3 linked regions of the Homo sapiens genome follow. The protein of the gene in region 1 purifies or fractionates together with the protein of each later gene. This does not show direct contact. Each region holds a gene or a part of one and is shown on either strand. Other genes may lie near its edges.

What was found.
Region 2: the proteins of AHDC1 (region 1) and ADNP purify together in Homo sapiens (affinity purification with mass spectrometry, with the first as the bait; one large-scale study listed by BioGRID). This does not show direct contact.
Region 3: the proteins of AHDC1 (region 1) and IL37 purify together in Homo sapiens (affinity purification with mass spectrometry; one large-scale study listed by BioGRID and IntAct). This does not show direct contact.

What each region holds. Positions count from the first base shown.
Region 1 is NC_000001.11:27,545,145-27,548,797, forward strand, and holds part of AHDC1 (transcription factor Gibbin), read right to left. Parts: coding exon 2,160-3,653; 3' UTR 2,117-2,159; intron 178-2,116; exon of another isoform or gene 112-177; intron 1-111. UniProt on the Homo sapiens protein: Transcription factor required for the proper patterning of the epidermis, which plays a key role in early epithelial morphogenesis. Directly binds promoter and enhancer regions and acts by maintaining local enhancer-promoter chromatin architecture.
Region 2 is NC_000020.11:50,921,413-50,925,065, forward strand, and holds part of ADNP (activity-dependent neuroprotector homeobox protein), read right to left. Parts: intron 1-3,653.
Region 3 is NC_000002.12:112,914,067-112,916,828, reverse strand, and holds part of IL37 (interleukin-37), read right to left. Parts: intron 1,637-2,762; coding exon of another isoform or gene 1,570-1,636; intron 1-1,569. UniProt on the Homo sapiens protein: Immune regulatory cytokine that acts as a suppressor of innate inflammatory and immune responses involved in curbing excessive inflammation.

The sequences.
Region 1 (3,653 bases):
TTCTAGCTTTTTTCTCTTGTACAGTGCTTCCCACAGCTGGAATCAACACATGCTTAATGCCACTGTTTGCTGTCTTTCCCTCTAAATGGGAAGCCCCCTGAGGACCAGTACCTCATTTGTGGTGTTCACTGTGGTGCCCCCAATGCCTGGCTTCTAGTGGGTGCTGGACAGATGTCTCTAGAACAATGGAATGCATTGGTTTGAGGACAGCGCAGTTAACTCACAGCCCTGAGTGGGGAGCAGGGCCAGAATGTGGGGCTGGATGGCATCCCAGTTCCTCCTGCGTTCAGGCCTCACTGGGTGGTTCCATTATGTACTTCACTGAGCTGTGACCTGCCCAAACACCCAGCCCCCACACCCGTCCATTTTCCCACCCAGAGCCTGGGAGGAACGGTTTTTGGATTATTTCACATTTCTGGATTATCCATGAGACATCTCCCCGCCAGTGAGAAGGATCAAGAGTTTGACATTTTAAACCCTAAGCAGTTTCTCCCTGGCCTGCTTCAGATCTGAGGCTCTGCTGGTTGCAATGAGACGCATGGGGAATGGAAGGCCATTTTAATCTTGGCCTGGCTTCATCAGGAAGGAAAAGATGCTGCCAAAAAAAAAAAAAAAGTTTGCTTCATTGTCTCTGCCATGCAGAGCTGCGAGAGCCTAAGGGATTATCAAAGTAAATTTCCTTGAAAAGATGGGGAAACTGAGGCCCAGAGAGGGGCAAAAGCTTGGTCAAGGGCATGTGGGAAGTTGGTGGCCAATCTGGGAATGGTCCTCCCGGAGGCCTCCGGACTCCTGCATGCTGCCCTTTGTCACCTTCAGGCACCAGGGGAGCTGGGGTCTGGCAGAGAGGGGGCAACAAGTTTCCACTGACATGACTTCAGGACCCTGAGTCACCCTGGCCTTGAATGGCCTCCCAGAGCACGGATGGGACTTTCCAGGAGCCCAGCTACTCCTCCAGGAAGAGAAACTCCCAGGAAGCTTCAGTGGCAGCAGAGGTGAAGGGTGAGGGACGCAGGCATGCCCCCAGTCTGCCCCATCACCAACCACCACATCTGGGCCAATTTTGTGACAGATCTGTTGTCCAAAAGTGGGGCCAGTGGCGGCTGTATTTCGGGAGCAGGCTGTTCTTCAAGAAGATGGCTCCTTCAACCTTGTTCCCTTTGATCATTTTGGGGGCATTTTCTGTCTTTTATTTTCCTTTTTTAAAACACCAAATCTTGAGAATACTAAAACTGACTCCAACTAATGAGGTCACAGTACCTGATAAAAACAGTATCAAAACATTTAACACTCTTTAACTGAACTCTCAGAAAAGTCTTTGGCTTCAGGAAAGGGACTGGCTTTTCTAGGGTCAAAATACCTTTGCCTGAAGATAGCCTCACTGGCTGCAGGTTTGCAGGGACAGTGGGACCCCAGCACCCCTTCTCCACTTCTGGGTCCCTACCCCACATGCTCCTGGCCACACCTAGCCTATCTCAGACCAAAGATGTTGGAAAATAGCCTTTGGGGGTACCTTGGGAGGCCAAGAGAGGACATTTTGGACCATCCTGTGAAGCCCTTGCAGAGTGTGTGACCACGCCACACTGGCCACTCTTGGCCTGGCCCTCACCAGGCTGCCTCTTAGAATCAGTGAAGCTCCCAGGGAAATGGGGGTGCCAGCAGGGCTGGTCCTCTGGATAGGCCCTGGGTAGACGACCGTCCAACCTGCTTCTCCCTTCACCTGTCTCACACAGGGCGATACAAATGCCCACCCTTATCAGCGTATTTCCTGGGAAATACTCACTTCCTGCCCAAGACATAGCATGAACAAATAATTGAAAGCTTAATAAACCAAACTACAGGGCCCCATCCAGTGTGTAGTCCTCTGGCCATTTCAATTCACAAGACCCCCCCGAACGTTCAAGCCCCCTGCTGAGTTCCCAGCCCAAGCACCCCATCTCCTCCTGAGACTGTCCGCAACAGCGAATCCTGAATCCCTACACCCTGCTCTCAGTCCCCAGCCTTGCCCTTAAATCCTGCATTTGCTTCCTGCACTCCATACCTCTGTCCTTGCCTAAGCTCTGATGTCCTCTTCCCACCCCCAGGCCTCTGCCCACTGCGCCCACATCCCCAGACTCACCCAGGAACAAAACCTCGCGGTCCAGTCGGCACTTCAGTTGGCACTACAGGGATGTGACGGTGAATGTGTCCTCGGGGTGAGGTTCCGCCATGGGCCCCAGGAAGCCGCTCTTGGGGCCCCCACCCAGGCCAGGATGCGCCTGGGGCATAAAGCCTGGGTACCTGTAGGCGGTGTCCTGCAGGGGCAGCAGCGAGTCCCTCGGCACGGGGGACAGGGTCAAGTCACTAAGGAGTGGGCAGCCATAGCCAGCAGCGGCTGCAGCAGGGCCACGGGGTGGGCCAGGGGGCCGGGCCATTTCCAGTGGCTCCTTGTCGGCCTTGGGCGTGGCTGGTGGGCTAGCCAGGTGAGGGGCACTGAGGCACGCGGCCTCCGTCCTGCCCAGGAAGTCAGCCAGCAGCCCTGTACCCACCTTGCCTTCATAGGGCGGGCTGCGGGCAGCTGAGCCTGGAGGGTACCAATAGGCTGTGCCCTTGCAGCTGGGGGAATCGTAGTGGGGCTGGCCCAGCGGCAGGTCCCGGCAGCTCAGGTGGGCCTGGGCTGCAGCTGCGTGGCCCAGGCTGGCCCCCTGGAGTCCATGCTTGAGGGGCTCGCAGGCAGCCAGCTTTGTGGGCGGTGGCCGCAGCTCTTCCTTGAAGCCCAGTGTAGGCGAGCAGGTGGGCGAGTATGCCTTCTGCAGGCCGGCGTCAAACACCGTGGGTGGGTGGGCCAGCGGTGGGAAATGCTTGCCATCAAGCTCGGGAGCACCCAGGCTGGGCGAGTCGCAGTGGAAGCCTTGGCCAAAGGTGCCATCGGAAGGCGTGGACGGGTTCATGGAGTAGGGTCCTATGAAGTCACAGGGGTCTCGCTCTCCCACGCCGAAGGCCCTCGACTGTGAGGGCAGTGGTGACATGCTGCTGTCCCCGCTATAGTAGTCCAGGCCGAGGTCAGGACTGTCCTGGAACAGTGGGTTGACTGGCTGTGGCTTGGGGATGAACTTGGCTTTGGCCGCTGCGCCACCCCGCTCCTTCTTGGCTGAGCAGGCCCCACCGCCCCGTCCACCTCGCGGCTGCCGGGGCCCAGTGCTCCGTTTGGATGGGTAGCCTGAGGCAGCGGCAGAGGCGGATGTCGGGAAGCCCAGATGTGAGGCCTCGAACAGGTCCACCTTCTTCCGCCGTCCACGGCCCGGCTTGGAGCTACTCTGAAAGAGGACACTCTGGTTCCAGTTGTAGCCGGGGGCAGATGATGCCTCGTTCCAGTCCATCATCAGTTTCTCCAGGCTGGACAGGCTCGACTGGCCCTCACTACTTGAGGCCTCGCTGTTGGCACGCCGAAACCCCCCGCCACCAACCGGCTGATTGAACTGGGTGCTGTCGGAGGATGACTCAGAGAAGGTCTCCGACACAGCCGTCTGCTGCTTCACCTTCTGCGGTGTGTAGTTGGAGATGTCCAGGATCACGTTGGGCTCGCTGACGTGGCAGTCAAAACTGGGATTGTAGAGCTGACTAAAGGCCTCTGAGGCCCAGTCCAGGCCTCCATAGCCCTGCCGGAAAGGCCACTG
Region 2 (3,653 bases), on another chromosome or scaffold:
AATAAACCCAGGTGACTTACAGTTATGTAGAAACATAAAGGTGTCATCTAGATTTTGCGTATCTTAAGTTTTAAAAAATATGTGGAGTCACTGGTCTTTTAGGAAGATTTTCAGACTACAAGACTGGTGCCCACAACTGGAAAACTGCTACTGTGTTGCTGCTTATCCTGATACTTTCCGTATTCAGATTTCAGGCAAGAATTCTAGCAGTGACCACCAGAATTTCCAGTACACCAGTAGAACCAGTTGTTTTCAGGCTGAACTCCTCTAAGAGTTTAAGATATGTATACAAACAGAGGGAAGATGATGCCTGAGGGACAAGGTGAAAGCTGGGCAGCCAGAGGTCTGGCCCCCCGACCCTTCATCAATTTAAGAGTTCACCTAAAATTGTATTTGAAAGCGGGGGAAGATGCCTCGGTACTTAAACAAGAAAAACAGACTGAGGATACTTTATAATATACCAATTTAGATTTAGGGAGAGTGTGAGGTGAGGAGCACTTCCCAGTTTACTTCACTCTAAACAGGTATTGCAGCAAGGCAGGGACACAGCATAAAGAGTGATTCTAGCACTCCACTGCCTACATAAGAACTCCACAGGCATACAGCCACTTGCTGTCGCTGTAAGTGGACAATCTGGCTTAAGATCAATGTGAAAAAGGGAAATAATTCACAAGTAGCCCTTAAGGGGTGCTTTAGGGGAAAACTCTCAAACTTTGTTTTTCCTCTGCCCTCACACCACACAGAAGTCGTGAAGTTGTCTTCTGTGACCAAACGTGTAGGGTTTTTTCCCAAGCAGCGGACACCAGCTGAGTATCCTCTAATTTGGTTCTGACACTGTCTACCTGGATACAGTGTCATATTCCACAAGATGGGGGCTCAGTCCCCAAAACTGCTCTCTCCTTCTTCAGACTCCAACTGTAAGTCTGGGCCTCCAGAACTTCTGACTGACACTTCAAGCTGGGGTTCCCAAGACCCCCTCCTTGAGTTCTATTAATTTGCTGGAGCATCTCACAAAACTTGGGGAAACACTTATGTTTACCGGTTTATTATAAAAAGTACAGATAAAGAAATGCGTAAGGGCACTGGGCTTCCATACCCTCTCTGGGGGCGCCACCCTCCAGGTGTGTTCAACTATCTGGAAGCTCTCTGAACCCAGTCCTCCTGCGTTTTTTTTTTTTTTTTTTAAAGACAGAATCTCACTCTGTCCCCCAGGCTGGAGTGCAGTGGTGCAATCTCGCCTCACTGTAACCTCTGCCTCCCGGGTTTGAGCAATTCTCCAGCCTCAGCCTCCTGAGTAGCTGGGATTATAGGCCCCCACCACTAAACCCAGCTAATTTTTTTTGTATTTTTAGTAGAGATGGGGTTTCACCACGATGGCCAGGCTGGTCTCAAACTCCTAAACTTGTGATTTGCTCGCCCCCAGCCTCCCAAAATGCTGGGATTACAGGCGTGAGCCACCGCGCCTGGCCCTCCTGGGTTTTTATAAAAGCTTCATATAGGAAACCTTACTTCCCTTCCCCGGGGTATAGGGCCAACACCCTCTCTCTAGAGAGGATCTCAAGACCTACAATCAGAAAGCTGGGTAAAGATCAGAATCTTGCCTTGGGACACGTGTAAGGAGAGCAGGAGAAGATCAGAGATTATTTTCTGAGACCTAACGTACCCTATATTATAACAAAACACGGTAATGGGGTTATGGGTGTTATGAGCCAGGAACCGTGGTGGATGAAAACCAGTATGTATCACAACACCACAAGAGGACACGCAGATATGTCCATTTATAAATTATTTCAGAAGCATGCCAAGTCTTTGTATCTAAATGACATAAAACGTTATTTTGATCCCCTAATAATACATTTTTATGCTCTACCGAAACTACTCAGAAATAATTTCCCACAATAGGAAATATATTTCTTTCACTATTCTTGAGTAACAGAATATTTAAACTATGTTCTCAAGTTTTTCGAAGCCATTTCCCAGGATCAAGGCTTCACCGAAGGTAGCTTTTCAAAAGCGTTCTTGTACCAGGTTTTGCCACTTGATGGCTCAAGTTTTCACACTTTCCTCAGAGAAGTTTTATTTGCATTTTTTTTGGTTGCTGTTTTTTATTTTTATTTTTTTTTGAGACTGAGTCTCACTCTGTCACCCAGGCTAGAGTGCAGTGGTGCCATCTTGGCTCACTGCAACCTCCGCCTCCCAGGTTCAAGTGATTCTCCTGCCTCAGCCTCCCAAGTAGCTGAGACTACATGTGAGTGCCACCACACCAGGATAACTTTTGTATTTTTAGTAGAGATGGGGTTTCACCATGTTGGCCAGGCTGGTCTTGAACTCCTGACCTCAGGTGACCCGCCAGCCTTGGCTTCCCAAAGTGCTGGGATTACAGATGTAAGCCACCGCACCCATCCTCTTGTTGCTGTTTTTAAGTGTAACTGATCTTGAAGCAGGATTCTGAGCACTTCTTGCATTTGGATACTCCCAGTCTCAGCTCACTTCTTTCACAAGAGCAAGGATTCTGTCAACCTAAATTTATAATTCGAATTGAAAATTTTAATAAATTCCACCATATTTCCACTAGACAGGAGTTTCTCAAAAGAGACCACTCAAAAGGTTCTCAGGTCATGAGCTTCCACCAGAAGAGCAGAGCTTTACAGATTGTCAACTGAAGCACAGGTTTCCACAAGCTCTTAAATGGAGCATGAAGGATTCAGAAAAAGAAAGGGTAAAAGCCAGCAATTATCTAAGAAAAAAGTAACTGCTCAGGACAGACTGACTGTCTTAAACTAAAAAACTGGGAAAAGAAAAGGGAACATAAACAACGTTTCTTTTTAGATTCTTATACAGTTAACTTCCCAGCAGAAATATGCTACTCCAATTAACTGCCACCTGCACAATTTACACCCATACTCTCCCTGCTGGGGGTGTGGCTAGCTTCTTTACATGTAGACGCCATTGGAATCCTTGGGTTTAAGCTCACATGGAAGCATAAAACCTCACTGTGAAATGGGAAGCATTCATGTGAGCCCCCATTAGCCAAACAGCTTACAAGAGCACCATAAAGGCCTGTGTTGCAAGCACAGGCCTGGGAACCAGCCCAGACATACTCTGTGGCTCATTTCATCATTGTATGTGGTAGTGCCTTGATTTCCCTACTTGTGAAACAAGGATAGTCCTGAGAAAATTGGGAATAGTTTATAAAGTGCTTGGAAAATAAAACAGACAAGCCACCAATACTATAATACCATAAAGGCCAGCAAGGGGGCCTTTACACTTAAGCAGCACATCCTTATTAAAGTCATCACAGTCACATGAGAAGTGACATATAAACACAACCCACAGCTAAGTGACTCAATTACAAATCTATACCCTTACTGAAGAGGGTATTAGGATATGCAGATTCATTTTTAATTCTAACAGCTGGTCAAATAATGCATGACTCTTTTAGATTACGTGTATGCTTTTAAATTAAATCTTTAACTTAAATCTAAAACTGTGGCATATATTCAGAGCAGGCTTCCCTTTGTAAACTCCATCCAACGTTGTCTATGCTTTCCTCTTATTTTCTAAATCTTTATTTCCAGAACACTGCTGAAATTCTTGAGAGGTTCCAGGCTTTCTCTAGCTGCTGTCTTGGAACCAAGGTAGGGATCAATAAT
Region 3 (2,762 bases), on another chromosome or scaffold:
GAAAGTAATAGCAGCACCTACTTGAGAGAGGAGTTATGAGAACTAAAATGCTTACTCAAATAAGTAGCACTTAGCCTGAGCAAAGAAAATGTCTGGCGTATAAAAAGGACTTTTTATAATCATTGTTTTTCTTAACTCTCTTTTTTGCACCCTCTGACTGGAGGCATCATTCCCTCAGCAGTGCCTAGAGTGGAACAGATCCCTGCACTGGCCAGGCTAAGGGAGCGGTGATGGAAGAGTTGGGAGGGTTGGAGGCAGGAAGCCCCCAGGAGCCCAGCACGGTGCAAGGCTGAGCTGGAGCTTTAGTGGCTCCTTTGAAAAGCCACAAATCTTGCACCTGGCCCTGGAGGAACAACTTCTAGCAGCAGGACCAGCCACAACAGTGCTCAGAGGGTTCTTAGGGCGTGGGCTCCTAGCAACTCATTTGGGCCAGGCCTGCCTAGAGTAGGGTCTTAAAAGGGAACGTTCCCTCCTGGCCTCTGATTGGACAGGTGACCCTCACCTCTGCAAAGAGCTCAGGCACTTGTTTGATAAAGAACAGGGGCCCCCAGGCTGGGCCAGTGACTGTCAAGAATGGGTGGGTGGCTGGAAAATGGCAAATGTGACAATATGAAAACACAGTAACCACCACACTATGTGAAGCTATAATATGGGTATCTGTGGTAGGCAATTCTAATGTAGAGAATAAGTCTAAGGTGTCATTCTTTTCCCATGCCATAAGCACATGGCCTCTGCCTGGGTTTCTCACTGTAGAATGTCCTCCTGGTCTCCTCATGCCCAAAGAGTGGGGAGGACTCCTCCTGTAACACCGGCTTTCCTGTCATCTCCCTGCAGCCCTCCTCAGCCCCCTCTGCACAGGGTAGCTTCCTCTCTGGTGCTGCAGCGCTCTGCACTCGTCAGTGGTACCTGCACACAGGTATTGGCATCCTTGGCTCGCTGCCCTATAGCACTGTAAGCTCCCCAGGAGCAGGCTTCCTATCTGACTCACCCGTGATCCTCCACCTCCCACCCTGTAGTGCCCCAAGCATCGTGGACACTCTCAGTGTCTATGGAAGAGATGACTGGCCCCAGGCAAGATCCTAAGTAACTCCCCAGTGATATGGGGTCAGATGAGATCCATGGTTATCAGCCCTGCCTTACATCAGAATCTCCTCAGGAGCTTTTCTGGGCCCATCCCAGGCAGTCTGAGTTCATGGAGCAGGTGCAGGTTGACTGAGAGTCACCGAGCTAGCTGAACTCTAAGCTTTTCCATTTCCCACACTTTAATGTGCAAGAAATCACCTGCAAACTATGGTTCAGTAGGTGTGGGTGGTGCCAAGCCTCTGTCTTTCTGATGCACTCCCAGAGCTGTGGGTGCTGCTGGTCTGAAGACACCCTTTGAGTGGCATGGCCTAAGGCTGTGACTCTCACCCCTGGTGCACACTGGGAATCACCTGGTGGGTGGCATTTTAAGACCATGGATACCTGGGCCTCACACTCCTGAGATTCTCATTCAGTTAGTCCAGGGTGAGACTGGAAAATGCTCTTTTTAAGAAGCTACTTTTCTAGCACCATCATTTTACTTTGTACCTCTTAAGCGCTTCTTAAAGCTGTTCTTTCCTTTGGTTTCTGTTTCCCTCCTATCACAGCCTGACATAGGATCTCAGCGTCTCACATGCAGACTAGTTCACTATCCTCTTAAGTGGTGTTCTCGCTCATGATCCTTGACCCCAAATCTTTCTCAAGGCCACTCTGAAGGTGTGAGTGGTCTTAAGGTGCTGGCAGTTGTTTTCTATAGGGAAGTTGTACTCCAACAGCAGCAGTAACATCAGTGCCAGCGCCAGCTTTAGGGCACTAGTAACTTTCTGTAGGGCAGTAGCTCTCAGACTTTCAAGGTGCGTCACGATAACCTGGAAGTCTTGTTAAAGCAGCCCCTAGAGCCTCAGCGCCCTGAGTTTCTGAGGCAGGAGGTCTGTGGTGGGGCCTGGGAATGTGTATTCCTAACACTTCTAGGCGCTGATGCTGCTGACGTTTGAGGACCAGACTTGGAGAACCACTTCCGCCAGATTTGAAGGAGATCCCAGCCCTGACAAGGAGAAGTCAGGACAGGCCCGACAGAGAGGCTTGTGTGCGTGGTTCCACCTGGAGTGGACACAGTGCAGATCCAAAGCCAGCAATGGTGTAACTACAACAAAACTAAAACATCAAAGGTAACTGCAGCAGCAGCGGTGGAGAAGTGACAGCAGCCTCCCCCAACTGTGCCAGGCACCCTTACACACCTGGTCCCATTTGGTCCTCTCTGCCATTGTACTAGTGAGGCTCAGTATTCCCACATGAACCTGCACTAGAGCTGGGGCTCAGGCTGAGGCCTCCTGACTCTGTCCTGAGAAGAGGAGGTGATGGGAGCCTTAAGCCTGAGTCAGGCAGACAGACGTTATAGTACCTTTAAATTTCCACATCTGTCACTTATTACCTGTGTCACCTAGGGCAGGGAATCTCCACTGTCTGTCTCGGTTTCCACACCTGAACAGTGGCAATGTTAACAGTTTCCTATTAGGGTGTTGTGGTGTTCAAATGGCAGCATGAGAGGAAGGTTCAGGCTCTGAAGGCGCCGCCCTGAGCCCTTAGTGGTGTGGGTGTCCCTGCACCCCCACTGGCCCCATGGCTGTTTGTCCTCAGTGCTGGGAGGAGGTCTGTGTCTCCAGTCTCTTGGCTATGGTCAGAAGAGGCACCTGGAAGGTTCCCAGGCACAAACTCTTCCTTGCCCTGTGCCTCTTAGCAGG